Homo sapiens: one gene and its partners. The protein of the gene in region 3 interacts with the protein of the main gene of each other region in a pairwise test. Each region holds a gene or a part of one and is shown on either strand. Other genes may lie near its edges.

The links. Proteins that work in one complex are often made in the same cells at the same time.
Region 1: the proteins of PEX13 (region 3) and PEX10 come close enough for resonance energy transfer, tested with the Homo sapiens proteins (one large-scale study listed by BioGRID).
Region 2: the proteins of PEX13 (region 3) and PIPOX come close enough for resonance energy transfer, tested with the Homo sapiens proteins (one large-scale study listed by BioGRID).
Region 4: the proteins of PEX13 (region 3) and ABCD1 come close enough for resonance energy transfer, tested with the Homo sapiens proteins (one large-scale study listed by BioGRID).

Annotation. Positions count from the first base shown.
Region 1 is NC_000001.11:2,406,172-2,410,630, forward strand, and holds part of PEX10 (peroxisome biogenesis factor 10), read right to left. Parts: intron 4,281-4,459; coding exon 4,200-4,280; intron 2,688-4,199; coding exon 2,281-2,687; intron 785-2,280; coding exon of another isoform or gene 725-784; coding exon 549-724; intron 449-548; coding exon 313-448; intron 1-312.
Region 2 is NC_000017.11:29,040,914-29,046,288, forward strand, and holds the start of PIPOX (peroxisomal sarcosine oxidase), read left to right. Parts: upstream 1-2,227; 5' UTR 2,228-2,312; coding exon 2,313-2,426; intron 2,427-3,945; coding exon 3,946-4,094; intron 4,095-5,375. UniProt on the Homo sapiens protein: Metabolizes sarcosine and L-pipecolic acid.
Region 3 is NC_000002.12:61,026,435-61,031,992, forward strand, and holds part of PEX13 (peroxisome biogenesis factor 13), read left to right. Parts: intron 1-4,984; coding exon 4,985-5,558. UniProt on the Homo sapiens protein: Component of the PEX13-PEX14 docking complex, a translocon channel that specifically mediates the import of peroxisomal cargo proteins bound to PEX5 receptor.
Region 4 is NC_000023.11:153,730,290-153,735,203, forward strand, and holds part of ABCD1 (ATP-binding cassette sub-family D member 1), read left to right. Parts: intron 1-4,562; exon of another isoform or gene 4,563-4,914. UniProt on the Homo sapiens protein: ATP-dependent transporter of the ATP-binding cassette (ABC) family involved in the transport of very long chain fatty acid (VLCFA)-CoA from the cytosol to the peroxisome lumen.

The DNA.
Region 1 (4,459 bases), on a different chromosome or scaffold from region 3:
GGTTTTCAAGTGTGGTGAGGACCCCGGGAGGAAGGGTGTGCTGGGATGCGTGGTGCAAGCGTGGGGCCTTTCAGGGCTGGCCACTACCCCAACCTGCATTCGGCAAAGCCTCAATACACGTGAATTTGGAACTTTAACCCCCTCAACGAACCCACATCTGACCTACCTGGGAGCCTTTAAAAAGATGCCCACCTCTGTACCCTCAAAACTGGAGGGTGCTCAGAGCCAGACTCCCCACTTCTGCTGCAGCCAGGTGCATCTTGCCGGCACAGCCGCTGACCACCCCAGGACGGCAGCAGGCTCCCACCTCACCTTGCTGCTGCACCACGCGGTGATGCACTCCCAGCAGAACAGGTGGCCGCAGGGCGTGGCTGTTGGGTGCCTGCGCTCCTCCAGGCACAGGGTGCACAGGGGGTTTCTGGAAACGGCTCTCTCCTCCAAGGAGGCCCTGGGGAAGGTGGGGCAGAGCGTCAAGGTGGGTGCACCTTACAGGTCCTTGTGAAGTGCCCAGGACACCCCCAGCCCCCATGTGTGGCCCCCGCACGCACCTGCGGTGAGACAGGCCGCGGTGCAGCCTCCACTCCTTCCTGGCTCGCTGCCGCTGCCTGAAACCGTACAGCTGCAGCCCCATGGACAGCACCAGGTGCAGCAGTGAGATGACCCCCAGCAGCCTGTAGCTAACACGGGCCCTCAGGTCCTCTCCGGGCAGGCTGCGGACACGGAGCTGTAAGGCAGATGGCGCCACACTCATCAGGACCCTGAGGGGATCTGGCCTCAGCGCCTGCTGGGAGGGTCACACGTTCAGTTGGCACAGAGCACGTTAGAACCAGGCCTCTCACTGGCATGGGGAGTGCCCGGCAGAAACGATCAAGCCAGGGGGCAGGTTCAGGGAGTCTGAGGTGCCTGCTTCGTAGCCTAGCATGACGGAGAGGCCTGAGCTCCAGACCAGCCTTGGCATTACCAGTGCAGAAAGAGTCTTAGCTATGAGGCTGGCAGAGCAGGTGAGGATGTGGGGATGTCCAGGGACCACCTCTCAGAAAAGGAGGCGGGGAGCGGAAATGTGGGGCTGCAGACGCTGCCCACCAGCTACCCTGCTACAGGGACCGAAGCCCCAGTGTAACAAGGCACGTGGCCCCAGGGACACTGCTGCCACCCTCCTGCTGGTGACACAGGTAGCTTCTGACCGTGCCACTGAAGGACAGCTGGCTGCCCTCGGCTTCCCGTGTCACTTTCCACTGGCTGGGAAATGGAGACAGCCAGACAGCCTCGGCCCAGGGCCGGGAACCACATACAGAGGTGGCAGGTCACACCGCCAGCATGGGCCCTGGGTGTCCAGCCACTTCCTGGCTGTCCTAGGAGAGAGGGAGCCTCCCATCTGGTTTGAGCCCCACTTCCATGCCCCTGTCACAGCAGCTCATCAAATCCCTCACCAACATGGACGGGGCAAGAAACCACATCAAATACGCAAGTGAGGCTGGGTACGCTGAGGACGAAGACCTGACCATTGGCTCTGCGACGAGGTCACGGTGGCCTCCTGTTTAGGGTGTGTGTGGAGGCGGGGTTGCCTGGCAAGTAGGGGCTGAGGGGACCAGTGCAGCTCTAGGGACAAAAGGAAGGGGGTTCCTCAGAGGGCTGTTCTGGAAGGAGCTCATGCAGTAGTGGCTCTGGTGGGCCAGGGACTAACGCTGTGGCAGGTGGACATGGTGGTGGGACCACGGGGGAGGCTTCGTTGCTGAATCTGGAAGCAGGGGCATCAGCTGGGGGTCAGGATAGGCAGAGGTGCCAACGGCTGTGGAGGGGAGAAGGTGGGAACGGCCGTCTGATGGGGCAGACTGCTGGGCCAGGCAGGGGCGAGGGGTGAGGGGCTGGGGCCGGGGCTGCAGTCCATGCTCCCACACTGTCTGGGAGAAGCTGTTTGTTCCCCACAGCAGTGACATAGGCAGTCACGGGCCCAGGTTCAGGGATCTGTGGTGAGGCGTGACCCGGGGCCCCCCGGTCAGTAAAGAGCTAAGCGCAGGGCCCGGTGTCCATGAGGGGCTGCAGCAGGAGTTCATTCTACACTTAGGGTCTGGACTTCCTTGGATCTTTCAGCCAAGTGTAATTAAACAAAATCTGCTTTTTTTCCAAGCAGAGGATTTGGGTTCCTGCCTTGACACAGATGCTGGATGTAGAACCCTGTTGGCTGAGAGGCCTGGAGGGCCAGCTCTGTGCATGCACCCAAGTCCAGTGGGGGTGACAAGGACGGCCTAAGCAGCTGTGCCCTCAGCGCCTGCTACTTACGTACGTGATCCCCGTGAGCCTCTTGGCCAGGTGGTAGAAGACACCGTGGATGTAAAACCAGGCAACATGTAGCCGCTGGAGGCAGGCGAGGCCCTGTCTGAGGACGAAGACCGCCCGCAGCAGCGCCCTCCTCTGCTGCTCAGTCAGGGTGGCCGTGTGGTGACGCATCCAGCGCCGCGCCCCTGAGCAGCCACGCCCACCTGGCCCCAGGCTCCCCTGCAAGGGTCGCCCACTGTCGGGGTCAGCCTGCAGCTCCTGCTCCAGGGGGAGCAGGGCCTTGTCCAGCAGGTAGGGCAGGACGGCATGCAGTGTCACCAGCACGCCACGGCGCAGCGAGGAGGGCACATGTATCCGCGATGGGTCCACCTGGATGATGCTGACGTACTCCTCCCCCAGGGTCTGGTAGCCTGCGAGGAAGAGGATGGGTATGTGGACCCTGAGACTGCTGCCGCGGGGACAGGCTCCCGGCGCCCCTGCCAGCCGACCCTCTGCTGGCTCCTGTCAACAGCCCCATCTTGTCGCCCTTGAGCCCACTGTCACCCCGTGCTGGCTGAGGCCAACATGACCTTCTGTCGCTAAGCCCACTGTGAGCTCAGGCAGCACATGACAGGCCCGGCCAATGGCTGCCCTTGGCTCCCAGGGCCTTGGCTGGCCAGTGTCCCTCCCTCTCTTGGCTTCTCCCCAAGAGTCTCTGCTCTTTCCCCTTTCTCCCTAGCTGTCCCCGCCACCTCCCCCAGCCCAAGCACTCGGATCCAGTCCCATGGCTCTCCACCAACCACACAGCTGGCACCACCCGATTTATGCCCAGCCTGGACCTTACTTGTGAGTGCCAGCCATGCAGGTCCGCCACCTACCTGACATCGCCATGTATGCTCAGATGAGCACCCCAATTCCACCCCTGCCGAGACAGCTTTCAGCGCCCCCACCCAGAAAAGCCTGCTCCCCGTTTCCATCTCTGTGGATGGCAACGCCAGGCCTCCGGTTCCTGAGGTCAAGCCCAAGGGGCACCCTGCATGCACCTTCCCTGTGTGTTCCACCCCCTCGCTGCCGCCCCTGCTCTGTACCACCACCATCCTGTGGGGGACTGTCACAGCCTCTGTAGTCTCCCTGAGCCCAACTTTGTCCCCTGAGGTCTGGTCTTAGCTAGTGGTCGGCCTCTCCCCTGCCCACGTCCCTGGAATGCCCCAAGCCTCGCACAGGGAAAGCTATGGGCTTACAAAACTCACGAGCCCCCCGGGGTCATTCTCCCAAACCGCCAAGGACGTGTTCTTCTCAGGGCCTTTCCCGGCTGCTTGCTCTGCCGGTCTGGAAAATGCTCTTCCCTAAGACGTGGTCTTTATCTCTGAGAGCCCCTCACTTCCCAAGATGCTCTGTGACGCAGCCACATCTGTCTCCCGCCCACCGAGCACACTCTCCATGGCGGCAGGATGCCCGGGGCGAGCCCCTCGTAGGGAACCAGGCTGGCACTCGGTGGTCCTTGCTACATGCTGAGCTGGGGTTGGGAGCCTGAGAGCTTCTGTCAACAACTCCCTCTAAAGGGTGGTGACCAGCCTGGGCCACAGACCCACCACTGCTCCACCAGGGCACTGTCACACGGGCACTGCACCCTATGACATGGCTCAGCACTGTGACTCACTGGTGCCACCAGGGCTGGCCACTGAGAAATGGGTCTCAGTGGCACCCGGGGTAAAGTCTTAAACAAAGAACCCCAGGGACACACAAAGGCTGGAAAAGTCGGCTCCCTGCTGGGAGCAGATGCCTCGCCTCCCTCGGAGCAGTACCTCCTGCACTTCCCTGAAGCAACCTCACCCGGGCCAGCTCCAGGAGCTTCTCACACTGCCTGGCAGCCCCCTGGCCACCGTCCCCAGACTTGGTGTGTGTGGCTGCCCTCAGTCCTGAGGTCCCGTGGGAGCTTCTACCTGCAAGTGTGGTGAGGCCAAAGTAGGCCACATCTGAGAGCAGCTCAACCTCCTTCCTCCACTCCAGCCACTTCCTCGCACCTGAGAGGAGAAACAGTATTAGTCCGGGGGAGCTGGTGGGCATCCTCTGAGGATGAGGGACCACAGTCCTCCCCCAGTTGTCTAGGCCCAGATCCAGTCCCACCCCTTCCATGAAGCCAACACTCACTCCCTGGCCTCCCTCTCTGCTTCTGTCTCCGGAGGCACCACCTTGACTTGCC
Region 2 (5,375 bases), on a different chromosome or scaffold from region 3:
CTCGGCCTCTCAAAGTGTTGGGATTACAGACGTGAGCCACTGTGCCCAGCCTCAGTGTCTTTGTATACCAGGGGTGTTGCTTTGGGTAAGATAGAATCTCTCTAAGCCTTCACGTCTTCAGCCATTAAGTAATATTTTGGTTATGGCTGTGTAAAAAACCTCCCCAAAATGTTGTGGCTGAAAACAACAACCATTTTATTCTGTTTCATGGTTTTGTGGATCAGGAATGAAGCTTGACTGGGTGATTCTTCTGCACTATGCAGCATCAATTGGGTCACTTGGTACTATTTGGCTGGTGCTAGGCTGGGCTGGAGGAACCAAGATGACTTCACTTTTCTTTGAGACAAGGTCTTGCTATGTTGCACAGGTTTGTCTGGAACTCCTGGCCTCAAGCGATCCTTCCTGACTCAGCCTCCCAAACCAAGATAACTTCATTCTTATATAGAGTTCTCCACCTGGTCCCAGGTCCTCTCCATGTGAACTCTCCCATAGGGTGCCTGCACTTCTAACATGGTGGCTCAGGGCTCAGAGAGTAAGGGCTCCTTGGCCAGGTGCGGTGGCTCATGCCTGTAACCCCAGCACTTTGGGAGGCCGAGGTGGTCGGATCATGAGGTCAGGAGTTCGAGACCAGCCTGGCCAATATGGTGAAACCCCGTCTCTACTAAAAATATGAAAAATTAGCTGGGTGTAGTGGCGCTCGCCTGTAGGCCCAGCTACTCGGGAAGCTGAGGCAGAAGAATCGCTTGAACCCACGAGTCAGAGGTTGCAGTGAGCCAAGATAGTGCCACTGCTCTCCTGCCTGGATGACAAAACGAGACTCCCTCTCAAAAAAAAAAAAAAAGTAAGGGCTCCAACATAAGAAGAGGAAGCTGCCAGTCTCTTTAGGGCTGTGCCAGAAAGTGTCATGGTATCACTTTTGCCATATTTTATGGGTCAAGCAGTCACAGAGTCTGTGATAGAAGGAGTGAAAAAGAATTTGGGGCCATCCTTAATCTGCCAAAAGTAGGCATAAAAATACTCCTAAGCCAGGTGCAGTGTCTCACACCTGTAATCCAAGCTTTTGGGAGGATGAGGTGGGAGGATTGTATGAGTCCAGGAGTTCGAGACCAGCCTGAGCAACACAGTGAGCCCTCGTCTCTACAAAAAATAAACAAAATTAGCTGAGCATGGTGGCATGCGTTTGTAGTTTCAGCTACTCGGGCGGCTGAGGTAGGAGGACCCCTTGAGCCCAGGAAGTGGAGGCTACAGTGAGCCGAGTTCGTGCCACTGCACTCCAGCCTGCGTGACAGTGAGATCCCAGAGATCCTCTCAAAAACCAAAACTTCAAAAACAAAAACCCGCAGAAACTCCTAGGGCTATGAGGAGTAAATGAGATAACTCATGCAGAGGCAAATTTACCATGAAGCAAATGAAACTTCAACCATGGGGGTCCTTAATTGAACAGTTTCTTCCACATCCGGGCATCTAATTTTGTATTAATAATTCTCCTTTTTTCTTTTTCTCAAAGAGTACCCTCGAACTGTATGACAATCAAGCCCTACCCAAATGCCAGTATCAGTACTTACTAAGCATACTGCCTGGGACAGAGAGATGCTCAACACGGGGCCCCTCCAGGCACTGGGCTGGCCTGGTCCCCTCTCTGTGGCTGAGGAGAGGGCTCCTCCTCTCACTCTGCCCTTTCTGTCTTTTCAGGATCATTTCTTCTTTCTTCAAAATGAAAGTAAAACATGCTGGGAATAATTTCATAATTACAAAACTGCCCTCCCAATTGGCCCCTGCCTCTACCCCCTGACCTCACCACCCACCAGGGAGGTGGGTCTTATTCTGGGCATCGTGCCAAGTTCTTAGCGGGGCCCTCTAGAATCTCTAAAGCAAATCAGGCTGAAGAGGGGAAAACCAGCAGGGGGAGGCAGCATTCCCGGTGCCCAGTATGGTCTAGGAGGCATTGAAATTCCAGGGCCGAAGTCCTGAGACAAAGATCATAATGAGACAGGAAGGTGGCAAAGGAAGGAGCCCATTTGCATGACAATAATTGAGCCAAGAATAGAAAGCCACAGGGATGCAAGGGTGAGGCTGGCGGCTGAGCTGGGCTAAACCTCACAAATCAGACTACCCAGCTCTGCTCCGCAGGGGAAGGGAGACTGAGCCCTGGGCCAGGCTTGGCAGAGAGGGAAGCGGGAGGACACGACCCCAGGGCATTGTGGGAACACTGGCCAGGCTGGACTTTGCCTTCCTCCTCGTCCTTTAGCCGGGAGCCTGTCTTTGCTTGCCTTTGCCTTTGAGGCTCTGTGGCTGTGGGGCTGAGTGGCATCATGGCGGCTCAGAAAGATCTCTGGGACGCCATTGTGATTGGGGCGGGGATCCAGGGCTGCTTCACTGCATACCACCTGGCCAAACACAGGAAGAGGATCCTCCTGCTGGAGCAGGTACTGTGTCCCTTCTGCACCCCCAGCTGTAAGGACTGTCCTACCCTCCTCCCCTGCAGAAGGGTTTTCAGAGCCAGCAGGCTACAGGGCAAGGCCAAAGGGACTGAATCATCAAAAATTCTGTGTAATTTGTATCTTAGCTGCCTAGTGTGTTTCATGGCAATTCAAAGAAGTTTCACATCCCTCATACCCACATTGGGTTTCTAGGCACATTTCCTCTTTCTACTGCTTCCCAGTTCCTGCCCTTGACCAAGCGTCCTAGGCCCTGTTCTCTTCCTTCTCACTACTCTTTCCCTTCTGTGCCCAAATGGTTGATCCCCACCCCAGAAAAATAATTGGTTCTGCTCTAGGTAACCTAAAGTAAAGATAATTTTGCCTAGAGGCAAAGGTTGATTTATCAGCCTAAGAGGTAGGATTCTGTCTTGCATATTCCTGGCCTCTCACACCAGAACCCAGCAGAAGCTTCTGTTTTTTTTTTTTATTTTTTATTTTTTGCCACCTCCAGATAATAGCAGCCTCCTTGTTTGACACATGATAAGTGAGACTGAGGCCTTATTTTTCCTGCTACGCAGTGCAGTCTGCAGTGACCACTGCATATGTGGGTGGGCCCTGTGTGTCTGCAGGGTCCTTCGAGGACAGGGCCACCCAGCTATCCACTGCAGTGGACTCTCCCTTTCCATTCTGCCTGCAGCTACCCAGGCTGGCTATGGTTTGCTCTTCTTGGTAATGAGCCAGAGTAGTTAGAAACCTTCTTCATTTCTCTATCAGTTTTCTCAAAGCCCAAGGGATTCCTGGTTCATCCTCTCAGGAAACTCATTGTTGCTGAATCCTGAGGTGGTTCTCTTACCCTGAGTGATCTGTAGCCACAGAGAAATAAAGTCAGCATCAGTTTCCTTGTTCATAAAATGAAGGGGCTGGAGTAGTTGAACTGGAAGGTTTTTTCTAATTTTGCTTCTTTGTGAATCTAAGTGAGGTGAGATTGCAGCAGGATGGTTGAAGACTAGCTAACAAAAGAACTTCTGGATGTGAACAACGTTAGCAAAAAGGAAGCCTAAGTTAGTGCTATTGAAGAACTTCTATCTTGATTGCCAAGTCAGTAAATTGGTCATAAAGAGAGAATTTGGAAAGATTGTGTGAATTTTTTTTTGTGGGGGGACAGGATCTCACTCTATTGCACGGGCTGGAGTGCAGTGGTACTATCATAGTTCACTACAGCCTCAAACTCCTGGGCTCAAACAGTCCTCCTACCTCAGCCTTCCAAGTAGCTGGGACTACAAGTGCCACCACACCTGATAGTTTTTAAATTTTTGAGAAGACTGGGTCTTGCTATATTGCCTAAGCTGGTCTTGAATTCCTGGGCTCAAATTATCTTCCTGTGCATAATCCTTCCCCAGATTGTGTGGAAATATTTGAAGGATAAATGGCTCCTGGTTGACAGCACATGCTGATATGGCTCTTAACAGGGGATGCAGTGTGAGGGGTAATGGCTTCCATCATCTCTCTTGTTTTCCACTTCCAGTTCTTTCTACCACACTCCCGAGGAAGCTCCCATGGACAAAGCCGGATAATCCGAAAGGCGTACCTGGAAGACTTTTACACCCGGATGATGCATGAGTGCTATCAGATATGGGCCCAGCTGGAGCACGAGGCTGGAACCCAATTGCACAGGTGGGCTGTGGGAGGAATTCCTTGAATCGTGGGGCTCTGCACCTGCAGGTACTTTTAGTGTGTGAAGTGGCAGCGCCATGGAACATTTGGAATGCAATGGGAGGGACACAAGGCCTCAAGAAGTACCAGATGCATGGAAGAGTTCTGCTGTCATGGTGGTCACCCCACAGGTCCAGCTGACTCTGGCCAGGCTCTGCGTTGCAGGACTGGGTTCAGACCATGTGTCCAAGGCTAGCAGAAGCAGTACTGGAAAGCCTGCTGGCAAGGCACCGTGTGGCAGATGCCCAGAGTGGACAGGAGTCTGCTGGAGTGTGTATTTTCAACTCTGTGGAGGCCTCTGCAACTCTTTTAGGGCAGGGGTTGAGATAGAGGAGGAGGCTGCTTTCAGGAGGATTCTTTTTTTTTTTTTTTTTTTTTTTTTTTTGACAGAGTCTCGCTTTTTTGTCAGGCTGGAGTGTAGTGGCGCCATCTTGGCTCACTGCAACCTCCACCTCCCGGGTTCAAGTGATTCTTCTGCTTCAGCCTCCCGGGCAGCTGGGACTACAGGTGCGCACCACCACACCCAGCTAATTTTTGTATTTTTAGTAGAGACAGGGTTTCACCATGTTGGCCAGGATGGTCTTGATCTCTCGACCTCATGATCTGCCCTTCTCGGCCCCCCTAAGTACTGGGATTACAGGTGTGAGCCACCGTGCCTGGCCCAGGATTCTTTATAGTCAAATCAACATCCTAACTTTTCCTGAGGGGTCCTCACCCCCTTTAGCAGCCCTATAAACCCATTTTGTTCTCTCTGAGTACCTTTTCCTGTAGGAACAAAATGGGGACGTTCCCCAGGCTGGATTGCTTGCCAGGGAGTGAGCCTCCACGTCTTTCTCTGCTGCCTTCATGGCTCTCTCCAACCCTTGACCTTTCAAACACTCATGGGAAAGAAAGCCAATAATCTGTGATGCAATGGGAACTTTAACCATCCCACCTCCCTCCCACCTCCTCTGTGACTCTTAACTGAACTTCCTACAAACCCTGGCTCTACCTGATAGGGTGGTGGTTATTTTAATGGCCAGGAACCAAGAGGTTAGTGTTCTGTTGCAAAAATACCATTAACTTAAGAACAAAGTGAAATCCATTATGCAAATCAGCCAGGGCAGCTAATTACAGATTTATTCAGAGGCAGCTAATGCACCCAGCACCCAAATAAAGGAGCATGTCTTGCTGGTGGGTGGCCCGGCAGAGGGACCCCTCTCTGTCAGTTGTCTGTGAATACTGCTGAGCATCTTTTGCTAA
Region 3 (5,558 bases):
GCTTCCCAGGTTCAAGCAATTCTCTGCCTCAGCCACCCGAGGAGCTGAGATTACAGGCGCCCACCACCACGCGTGGCTAATTTTTGTATTTTTAGTAGAGACAGTATTTCACCATCTTGGCCAGGCTGGTCTTGAACTCCTGACATTGTGATCCACCCACCTCAGCCTCCCAAAGTGCTGGGATTGCAGACATGAGCCACCACGCCTGGCCTGTGGCCACCTTTTCTAAGATTTCTAATGGAATTTTTAAAATATTTAAATGTTTTTATTTAATTTCAATTTTTATTTCACAGATATTATTTCATTTCTCTCTCTGATAATTTTTAACATATCTAAAATCATTCCTGAGCTGTTATATAAAATTAGTTTTTTTAAATTGGGTTTTATACTTGCTGATTTTTGTTGGCTTTGTTTCTTAGTGTTTTTATTTCTTCATGTGTGTGGCATTTTTGAGATGGTCATTTTGAGTAGTAATTTTGGAGTTCTGTTTTCTCTCCTTTCCCTCTTCCATGTTCCCCTCTCTCTATCTAATAGGTGTCCTGTTGCCTCTCCCTGTTCCCTCTACCTACCACTTAGGTAAGAATCAGGTGTAAAAACAGTGGGTCAGACTGGGCATGGTGGCTCACACCTGTAATCTTAGCTCTTTGGGAGGCCAAGGCAGGAGGATTGCTTGAGCCCAGGAGTTGGAAACCAGCCTCTCAAGATGTAGCGAGAACCCATTTCTACAAAAAATATCAAAAAGAAAAAAAAAAAAAAAGGCAGGCATGGTGGTGCACGCCTGTAGTCCCAGCTACTTGGGAAGCTGAGGTGGGAGGGATCGCTTGAGCCTAGGAGTTTGAGGTTGCAGTGAGCCGTGATTGCACCACTGAACTCCAGCTTGGGTGACAGAGTGAGACTCTGTCTCAAAAAAAAAAAAAACAAAACACACACACACACACAAAAACAGCGAGTTAGATTAAGGATATCACACATCAAGTCGGTCAGTTGTTTCATTTCCTGGGCTGGAGGCCTTATCACAGTCCTCTCCCTCTCTTAGTTCTGTAACTTTCTCAAAATATTAAACTGTCATCAGCAAATTTTATAATCTCTTTGTAGGAGTCAAGGTGGCACATCCTCATTCCCAGCCTCAAGCATTGAACTGGTTCCATTTTAATGGAGCACTTTTCGTTTTTGTTACTTCATTGAAGCCTGCATCTTGGCTGTCACTGCCTGATTACAGAACCAGAATTGAGTAGGCCCGTAGCTTCAGCCCTCCTTACCATTTTACATTTCTGTTTAGTTTCTCTTCCATAAGTCTGTCTTGTGTTAAATCTAGATAATGTCTGTTTGTTTGTCTCTCTGTTTTCTCTATTATTGCTTATACTTGGGAGCAGAACTGTTTCATTAAAGCCTGAATGCACTGCACTATCTGGCCGTTCACTGGCTCCTTTTAAGTTTTGTTCCATTTTTAAATATCAGATCCAATAAAAGAAAAAAAAATAGAGTTCTAGTAGCTTGTTTATAATATTACGATACAAGTCTAAATTAAAACTTTAGCCTGGATTAGAAAATTACCATTTTGCAGTTCCACATCTAATATTTGTTTCAGGCAAGGATGATGAATCGATGCTAAACTATCAAATGAACAGTTGCTGAGGAATAGAATATTTGTGGTACAAAACTGTCATCCCATAGATTATATACTAATTACAAAGGGAAAGATACATTTTAATGGAAAGATCTAATAGTCACCTCCTTAACCAACTAATCAAATTTAGCTTCACAAATGCGCCTCCTAAAGTAATACTGTGTGAAGTAAACAACATCACTTATGAATTATTCTTGCCAAAAAATATTGAACCTGATTGCAATCAAACCGTTAAATGCAATCTTAATTTAATAGGAGGCGAAATAAGAGTACAAGTTAAACAACACTTGGGGGAAACACAAATCTGGGGGTAGGACATTTCTTTCTTTTCTTTTTTTTTTTTTTTGAAACAGAGTCTCACTGTGTCACCCAGACTGGAGGGCAGTGGCATGATCTCAGCTCACTGCAACAGCCGCCTCTGGGGTTCAAGCGATTCTCCCTCAGCCTCCCGAGTAGCTGGGACTACAGGCACCCACCACCACGTCCGGCTAATTTTTGTATTTTTAGTAGAGACGGGGTTTCACCATGTTGGCCAGGCTGGTCTCGAACTCCTAACCTGAGGGGACCCGCCTGCCTCAGCCTCCCAAAGTGCTGGGATTACAGGCATGAGCCACCATGCCTGGGCTGGGGGTAGGACATTTCTAGAAAAAAACTGGGTTGACTCTTTAGAAGGTCAGGGATATTTGAAAAAATGGGATTGTTCTCATTTAGAAAAGAAAGGAAACAAACCAACCAAATGCAGTGTGTGAGCCTTAATTGAATTTTTGTTCAAAAAAATTTTTAAAGATATTTTTGACTCATGTAGCACAATAATTTAAAAAGCAGTGATAAAAAGGCTAAGCCAAGTACAATGGCTCATGCCTGTAATCCCAGCACTTTGAGAGGTAGAAGTGGAAGGATTGCTTGAACCCAGGTATTTGAGACCAGCCTGGGCAACAAAGTGGGACCCTCATCTCTACCAAAAAGTTAGCCGGGAGTGGTGGTCTCACCTACATAGGAAGCTGAGGCAGAAGGATTACTTGAGCTGTGTTTGCGCTTCTGCACTCCAACCTCAATGACAGAGGGAGACCCTGTCTCCAAAAAAAAAAAAAAAAGAGGGCGAACTTAAAAGTGGGCAAAGTATCTGAATACATATTTTTCCAAATAAGATTGTAAAACGACCAATAAGCACATGAAAATATGCTCAACATCATTAGCCGTCAAGAAAATGCAAATTAAAACCACAGTGAAATACCACCTCACGCCCACTAGGATAGCTATAATGAAAAATATAAGAGCAGATGTGGCCAAGGATGTGGAGAAATTGGAAATCCTCATACATTGGCGAGAATGTAAAATGGTACAGTTGCTTTGGAACACAATCTGGCAGTTCCTCAAAAGGCTAAATATAGAGTTTCCATATAACCCAGCAAACATGTCCGTACAAAAACTTGTACATAAATGGTCATTGCAGCATTATTTGTAATAGCCAAGAAGTAAAAACAGCCCCAATATACATAAGCTGATGTGTGAATAAATATAATTTGGCAATAAAAATTAATGAAATACAGTTGGCCTTCCACATCTGATCAACCAACTGTGGATCAAAAATATTCGGAAAATAGGCCAGACGTGTTGGCTAACACCTGTTATCCTGACATTTTGGGAGGCTGAGGTGGGAGGATCACTTGAGGCCAGGAGTTGGAGGCTGCGGTGAGCTATGATCATGCCACAACACTCTAGCCTGGACAATAGAGTGAGACCCTGTCTCTTAAAAAAAAAAAGTATTCAGAAAAAAAAAAACTGCATCTGTACTGAACATGTACAGACTTTATTCCTTGTCATTATTTCCTAAACACTACAGTATAAGTAATTACATACATTTACAGTGTATTAGATACTATAAGCTAGAGATGATTTTAAGTATACAGGAGGATGTGCATAGGTTATATGCAAATGCTATACTATTTTATATTAAGGACTTGAGCATTCATGGATTTTGGTATCTGAAGGAGATTTTGAAACCACTCCCCCACAGATACCAAGGGCTGCCTGTGCTGATACATGCTATAAAATGGATAAACCCTGGAAACATTATGCTAAGTGAAAGAAGCCAGTCACAAAATACTACGTATTGTATGAGTCCATTTACCATAGATCCTCATTATTTGTGGATTCTGTATTTTCAAATTGGTCTGCTCACTAAAATTTATTTGTAATCTGAAAATCAATATTCCTGGCACTATCACAGTCATTTGAGGACAAACGTACATCAGGTAAAAATCTGAGTTGTCCCTCAGCTGACAACTGAGGGACAACTGAGAGACAAAAAAGCAACACTCTGGTTTCTTATTTCAGCTCTCATGCTGTAAACAGTTGTCTTTATCAAAGTCTGTTTAGTGCCAGGTTTTTTCACATTTTTTTATGGTGATTTTGCTGTCTAAAATGGCCCCCAAGCATAGTGCTGAAGTGATCTCTAGTGTTCCTAAGCACAGGAATGCTGTAGTGTGCCTTACAGAGAAAATACAGGTGTTAGATAAGCTTCATTCAGGCATGGGCTATTGTGCTGTTGGCCATGAGTTGTTAATGAGTTAACAATATACCTGGAATAAAGTGACTTTAAACAGAAACATATAAAATAAGTATATGTATTGATTGGTTGATGAAAGAAGCAGTGATTTGGTATCTGCTGGTTCAGAGTTCACAGCAACTTTACAGGATATAACTATCTTAAATAACAAGAATTAACTATATATGAAATGTCCAGAATAGACAAACCGAGGGACAGAAGGTAGATTCATGGTTGCCAAAGATGGGTGGAGGGGTGGGCAGGAAATGGGGAATAGCTGCTAATGAATATGGGGTTTCTTTTTTGAGGTGATGAAAATCTTCTGAATTAGACATGGTGATAGTTACACACCTCTGTGAGTGTACTAAAACCTATTAAATTTTAAACTTTAAAGTGATGCCTGGGCACAGTGGCTCACACCTGTAATCCCAGCACTTTAGGAAACCAAGGCAGATGGATCGTTTGAGCCCAGGAGTTTGAGACCAGCCTGGGAAACATGGTGAAACCCCATCTCTACAAAAAATATAAAAAATTAGCCAGGTGTGGTGGCATGCACCTGTAGTCCCAACTGCTCAGGAGGCTGAGGTGGGAGGATCACTTGAGCCTGGGAGGTTGAGGCTACAGTGAGCTTTTGATTGTGCTACTACACTCCAGCTTGGGCAACAGAGTGAGACCCTGTCTCTAAATCAATTAATCAGTCTTCAGTAGAATTTGTCATAGCACCAGGTATATAGGAGATGTTTAATACTTACTTTGAATTGAATTTATTGTATGCTTAAATAACTGTTTTGAATCTTTTTTGGTTTTAGATCTGCTGATTTGGGTCCTACTTTAATGACAAGACCTGGACAACCAGCACTTACCAGAGTGCCCCCACCTATTCTTCCAAGGCCATCACAGCAGACAGGAAGTAGCAGTGTGAACACTTTTAGACCTGCTTACAGTTCATTTTCTTCTGGATATGGTGCCTATGGAAATTCATTTTATGGAGGCTATAGTCCTTATAGTTATGGATATAATGGGCTGGGCTACAACCGCCTCCGTGTAGATGATCTTCCACCCAGTAGATTTGTTCAGCAAGCTGAAGAAAGCAGCAGGGGTGCATTTCAGTCCATTGAAAGTATTGTGCATGCATTTGCCTCTGTCAGTATGATGATGGATGCTACCTTTTCAGCTGTCTATAACAGTTTCAGGGCTGTATTGGATGTAGCAAATCACTTTTCCCGATTGAAAATACACTTTACAAAAGTGTTTTCAGCTTTTGCATTGGTTAGGACTATACGGTATCTTTACAGACGGCTACAGCGGATGTTAGGTTTAAGAAGAGGCTCTGAGAATGAAGACCTCTGGGCAGAGAGTGAAGGAACTGTGGCATGCCTTGGT
Region 4 (4,914 bases), on a different chromosome or scaffold from region 3:
CCCTTTAAAAGGTCAACACGCAGCCGGGCGCGGGGGCTCCCGCCTGGCATCCCAGCACTTTGGGAGGGTGAGGCGGGCAGATCACGAGGTCAGGAGGTCGAGACCATCCTGGCTAACAGGGTGAAACCCCATCTCTACTAAAAATACAAAAATTTAGCCGGGCGCGGTGGCGGGCGCCTATAGTCCCAGCTACTCGGGACGCTGAGGCAGAAGAATGGCGTGAACCCGGGAGGCGGAGCTGGCAGTGAGCCCAGATAGCGCCACTGCACTCCAGCCTGGGCGAAAGAACGAGACTTCGTCTCAAATAAAAATAAAAATAAAAAATAAAAGATCAACACGCATACTTGTTAGGTTAATCAATAGCTCCGCCTTCTCCTGGACCTTAGAACGCAGAAGCAGCCCCGTGGGGCATGGCATCATAGCCCAGCCAAGAGTTGGATTTGTACCTAGTTTTTCCTCTTTGCTATCGCCTTATCCACACGTGTTGAAACTCACTCGCATGTTTGCTGAGTTCTGTGCTCACCATTTCGTTCCTACATCTCAATTTCTCTTCTATGTTCTGTTATCTTCCTCCAGATAGACATGTTTTTAGTTTTTTGTTTGTTTGTTTTTTAACTCACAACTATGCTCAGGACAAACAGTCATCAGTGCTTCTAGTTGTGGTTGGTTTTTAAAAAAGGTTCTTTCAGCAAGGGTTTTGTCATGGGAAATTCTTGATTATTTTATTGTAATTCTTTGTGTTGTTTAGTTTTTTGTTTGTTTGTTTGTTTTTTGTAGAGGCAGGTTCTCGCTGTGTTGCCCAGGCTAGTGTGGAACTCCTGGGCTCAAGCGGTCCTCCCGCATTAGCCTCTCAAAGTGCTGGGATTACAGACGTGAGCCACCACACCCAGGCTGTTGTCATTCTTGATTATTTTTGTTGAAAATGTTTCTATTTCACCCTTATTCCCAAGCTAAAGTTGAGTTGCGCAATGGAGTCTAGGTGGACTGTTCTTTTCTCTCAGCCCTTTCACAATGTCTCATTGTCTCCCTGCTTCTTCTGTAGCTGCTGACAAATCTGTAGCTGCTAACAAATTGTCCTCCCTGAGTACCCTGTGTTTCTTTTTTTCTGGGTACTTTGATCACTTTCTTTCTTTTTGGCATTCTGCAGTTTCACTATGACATGTTTAGGTGTCAGTTTTTGTTGATTCTGCTTGAGACTTGTTATATGTCCTTTGAATATTTGAGTTTTTCAATCATTCTGGAAGATTCTCAGCTATTAGCTTTTCAGATATTGCCTGACTCTCATTCTTTTTTCCTGTTCTTCTAGAACTGGCAGCCAGTGCTGGACTTCTGACTCTCTTCGTTGTGTCTTTCGGTTTCTGTTTACTGTTTCCCATCTCACACTGTCTGTGCTGAATTCTGGGGATGCCCTGAGGCCTTCCTGTTTGCTCATTTTCCAGTTCACCAGTTTTCTCTTTGGCCATGTCTAATTGGAATTTTGTTCACATTTCAGTGGCTGTTTTGTAAGTTCTATTTCATTCTATTTCAAATAGGAATTTGAAAATGGACATTTCCTTTTTCAAGTAGAAATGTCAGGCTGTTTCTGTGTCTTATTTGCTCATCTTTTTGACTGCTCCTTTTATACTGTGTATCAGGTTAGTCATACTTACCCCACCGTCTCTATCTGATGGTTTGGTTAGCTTCAGTTCTTGGGAGTATCATTCGCCTGTCTTCTGTCTGCTGGTCTTCACTCATGGTGGATCATTTCCTTGTGGGTTTTGCAACAGAACTTCTATGGGGATTGGTGTGGCCTCAATGGAGGGTGTAAGTCCAAATGTCCTTCTGTTTTGGCCAAGCACTCCAGGGTAAGCAGTTGGAGGCCATTAGTTAGTGCGGAGGGGATGGTTCCTGAATTGAGAGGTGGTTTCATTTGAATTCATTTGAACTCCAGGCACATTGTTACAAATTTTCAGAGGAGGCTTTTTGTTCATTGGGCATAGAGCCCAGGCTAAGCAAGGAAAGCTTCCTGGTCTTTGCCCTGCCTGCCTCTGGGGCTATCAAAGGATCACCTGGCTGTCTGCTTCTCTTTGCTCCCAGAAGTTTCCCTTGCTTTCCGTCAAGCTTGGCTCTGCTCGAAATAGTGTCGTAGTTTACCCAGTTTGGTGGGAAGAGGGTTTTCGATTTATAAACAGAAGTCTGATTCTCTCCCTGTTCCTGTTTCCACCTCGGGGCTTCCATGCCCTCAACTGTCTGTGTCATCCTCTGGGTGACTCACCAAGAGGAAGGATCTAATTCGGGGACTGCACATCAAGGGCAGCCTTGATGCTGGCGTAGGTGCCCAGCCCAGTCAGCGCACCTAGCCCCGGGCACCGAGACAGCCCGCGAGACAGCACCTGCAGCCGCTTCGCTCCATGGCTGCCATTGGTCACATCGGGCTGCTCCCTGCCCTGAAGGCTTAGGACTTTTCTGAGCCTCTGCTGTGCCAGGCTTTGTGGGCTCCTGGCCCTGCTCTGGTGGTCCTCAGAGCCAGCAGCCTTTGAAGGCTGTGAAGCATTCCCTTTCCCCTGGCTTGATAGGCTCTGTCCTGTGGCCGTCTGTTTTTTTTTGGAGGGGGAGCTTTTGAGATGGAGTCTCACTCTGTCTCCCAGGCTGGAGTGCAGTGGCACGATCTTGGCTCACTGCAACCTCCATCTCCCGGGTTCAAGTGATTCTCCTGCCTCAGCCTCCCAAGTAGCTGGGACTACAGGTACACGCCACCATGCCTGGCTAATTTTTGTGTTTTTAGTAGAGATGGGGTTTCGCCATGTTGGTCAGGCTGGTCTTGAACTCCTGACCTCAAGTGATCCACCTGCCTCGGCCTCCCAAAGTGCTGGGATTATAGGTGTGAGCCACTGTGCCTGGTCCTGTGGCCTTCTTATTTCCCCAAATGCCAGGCCTGCTCTGTCTTGGGGCCTGTGCCAGGAGCACTCTTTCCTCTGCTGCCCCATGGCGCAGCCCCCCTAGGCAAGGCCCGGCCTGCCCACCGCCACCTTTCCTGTCTCCTTCCCTGCCCCACTGCTCTCCCAAGCACTCGACACCCCGTCAGTGGCGCTTTTCTCTCTCCCTGCCATGGACTGCAAGCTCCATGGGGTCAGGGATTTTTGTCTGTTTTGTCCCTGCTGTGTCCCCTGCATCGGGTGGCTAGTGAGGGCTCCAGGTGCTTCAAGGAGGTGGAGCGCACTGGGTGGGAAGGCAGGCTCTTACCGGTTGGAAGATTTAGATAAGCTTTGCTGGGCTGGTGTGCAAGGCAGGTGGGCTCAGGAGATGGGCAGGGCCTGTGGCTCCCACTCCAGCCCTGAGGCCTTGCTCTGTCCAGCTCTGGGGCCCTGGCCTTATTCACCCAAGGCTCCAAGAGAACCTGCAGAAGGCAGCTGGTTCTACGCCAGGATGCCCTGGGCACAAAGACTTGCAGACCCTTCCCTTTGTCCACAGCGACTGTCCAGCTCTCAGAACACCTGGGGAGGAGGGCTGTGTCCTTGAGAGCACCGTGGGAAGGAAGGTCCAAGGCCTTCGACCTTTAGGATTCACATCCCCGCCCCGCCAGCCCAATCTAGTTCCCTGGTTTCCCGGGCCAGGCCCCTTTCCACCCTGCATGGCCCTGAGCGGATACTGCGTTCCGTGTCTTCCCCCAGCCCCCAGCCAATGATCCCTGAGGCTTCCCCCTCAGGATCACACCCACCCCTGGATACAGTCCTCGGGTCCTTCACAGGACATTCCCACCACTTCAGCCACACCCCAGCACCCTCAGAGGCGGCCTTCGCCCTTGCTCCCCACCTCTGCTCCTGTGGGGAATCTAAGGATCAAGAAACTGAGAGTCAAGGCCATTGATGAGGGTCAGGGGTGCTGCCACGGGGCCTAGAGTGTGACAGAAAAGCAAATTAAGACAGGAGCAGCTCCTGGGAGAAGCAGACACCAAACAATACGGCTGCTGGCCCAGAGGTCAAAAACCATGGCCTAGAGGGGGCGGTCAGGAAGTGGGACATTAGGCCGGGCGTGGTGGCCCATGCCTGCAATCCCAGCATCTTTGGAGGCCAAGGCAAGTGGATCACCTGAGTTCAGGAGTTTGAGACCAGCCTGGCCAACATGGTGAGACTTCGTCTCTACTAAAAATACAAAAAAAATTCGCTGGGCTTGGTGGCGGGTGCCTGTAATCCCAGCTACTCGGGAGGCTGAGGCACAAGAATCCCTTGAACCTGGGGAGGCAGAGGTTGCAGTGAGCCAAGATCACACCACTGCACTCCAGCCTGGGCAACAGAGCAAGACTCCATCTCAAAAAAAAGAAAAGAAAAAAAAAAGAAAGTTGGCGTTTCAAAGCCAAACAGCTCTGGGCGTTGGATGACAAAGTTCAGATGTGCCCCAGGAGGGGCGACATCAGTGGTGCAGGACAGAGGGCCGGTGGAAGGAGCTGGCTGTACGTAGAAACAAAACCAGATGCCTACTGGTGCATTTAAAAATCAACGTTATTGAGACGTAATTAACATACTATACAATTCTTCCTTTTCCATGTACAGTTTAAATTCATTCACAGAGTTGTGCAGCCATCATCACTAACTCCAGAATGTTTTATTTTTATTTTATCCCCCAAAGAAACCCCAGACCCATGAACAGTCACTCCTCATTCCCTCTCTCCAGCCCCTGGCACCCACTCATCTGCTTCCTGTCTCTGTGGATTTGCCTATCTGGACATGTCCTAGAAATGGAATCATGTGCTCTGTGGCATTTTGTGACTAGCTTCCTTCACTGAGCATCATGGTTTCAAGATTCGTCCATGTCATAAGATGAATCAGTCCTTCATTCCTTTTCATGGCTGAATAATATTCCATTGTGTGCATAGACCACAATTTCTTTATCCATTCATCCCTTGATGGACATTTTGGGTTTCTTCATGTTTTGGCT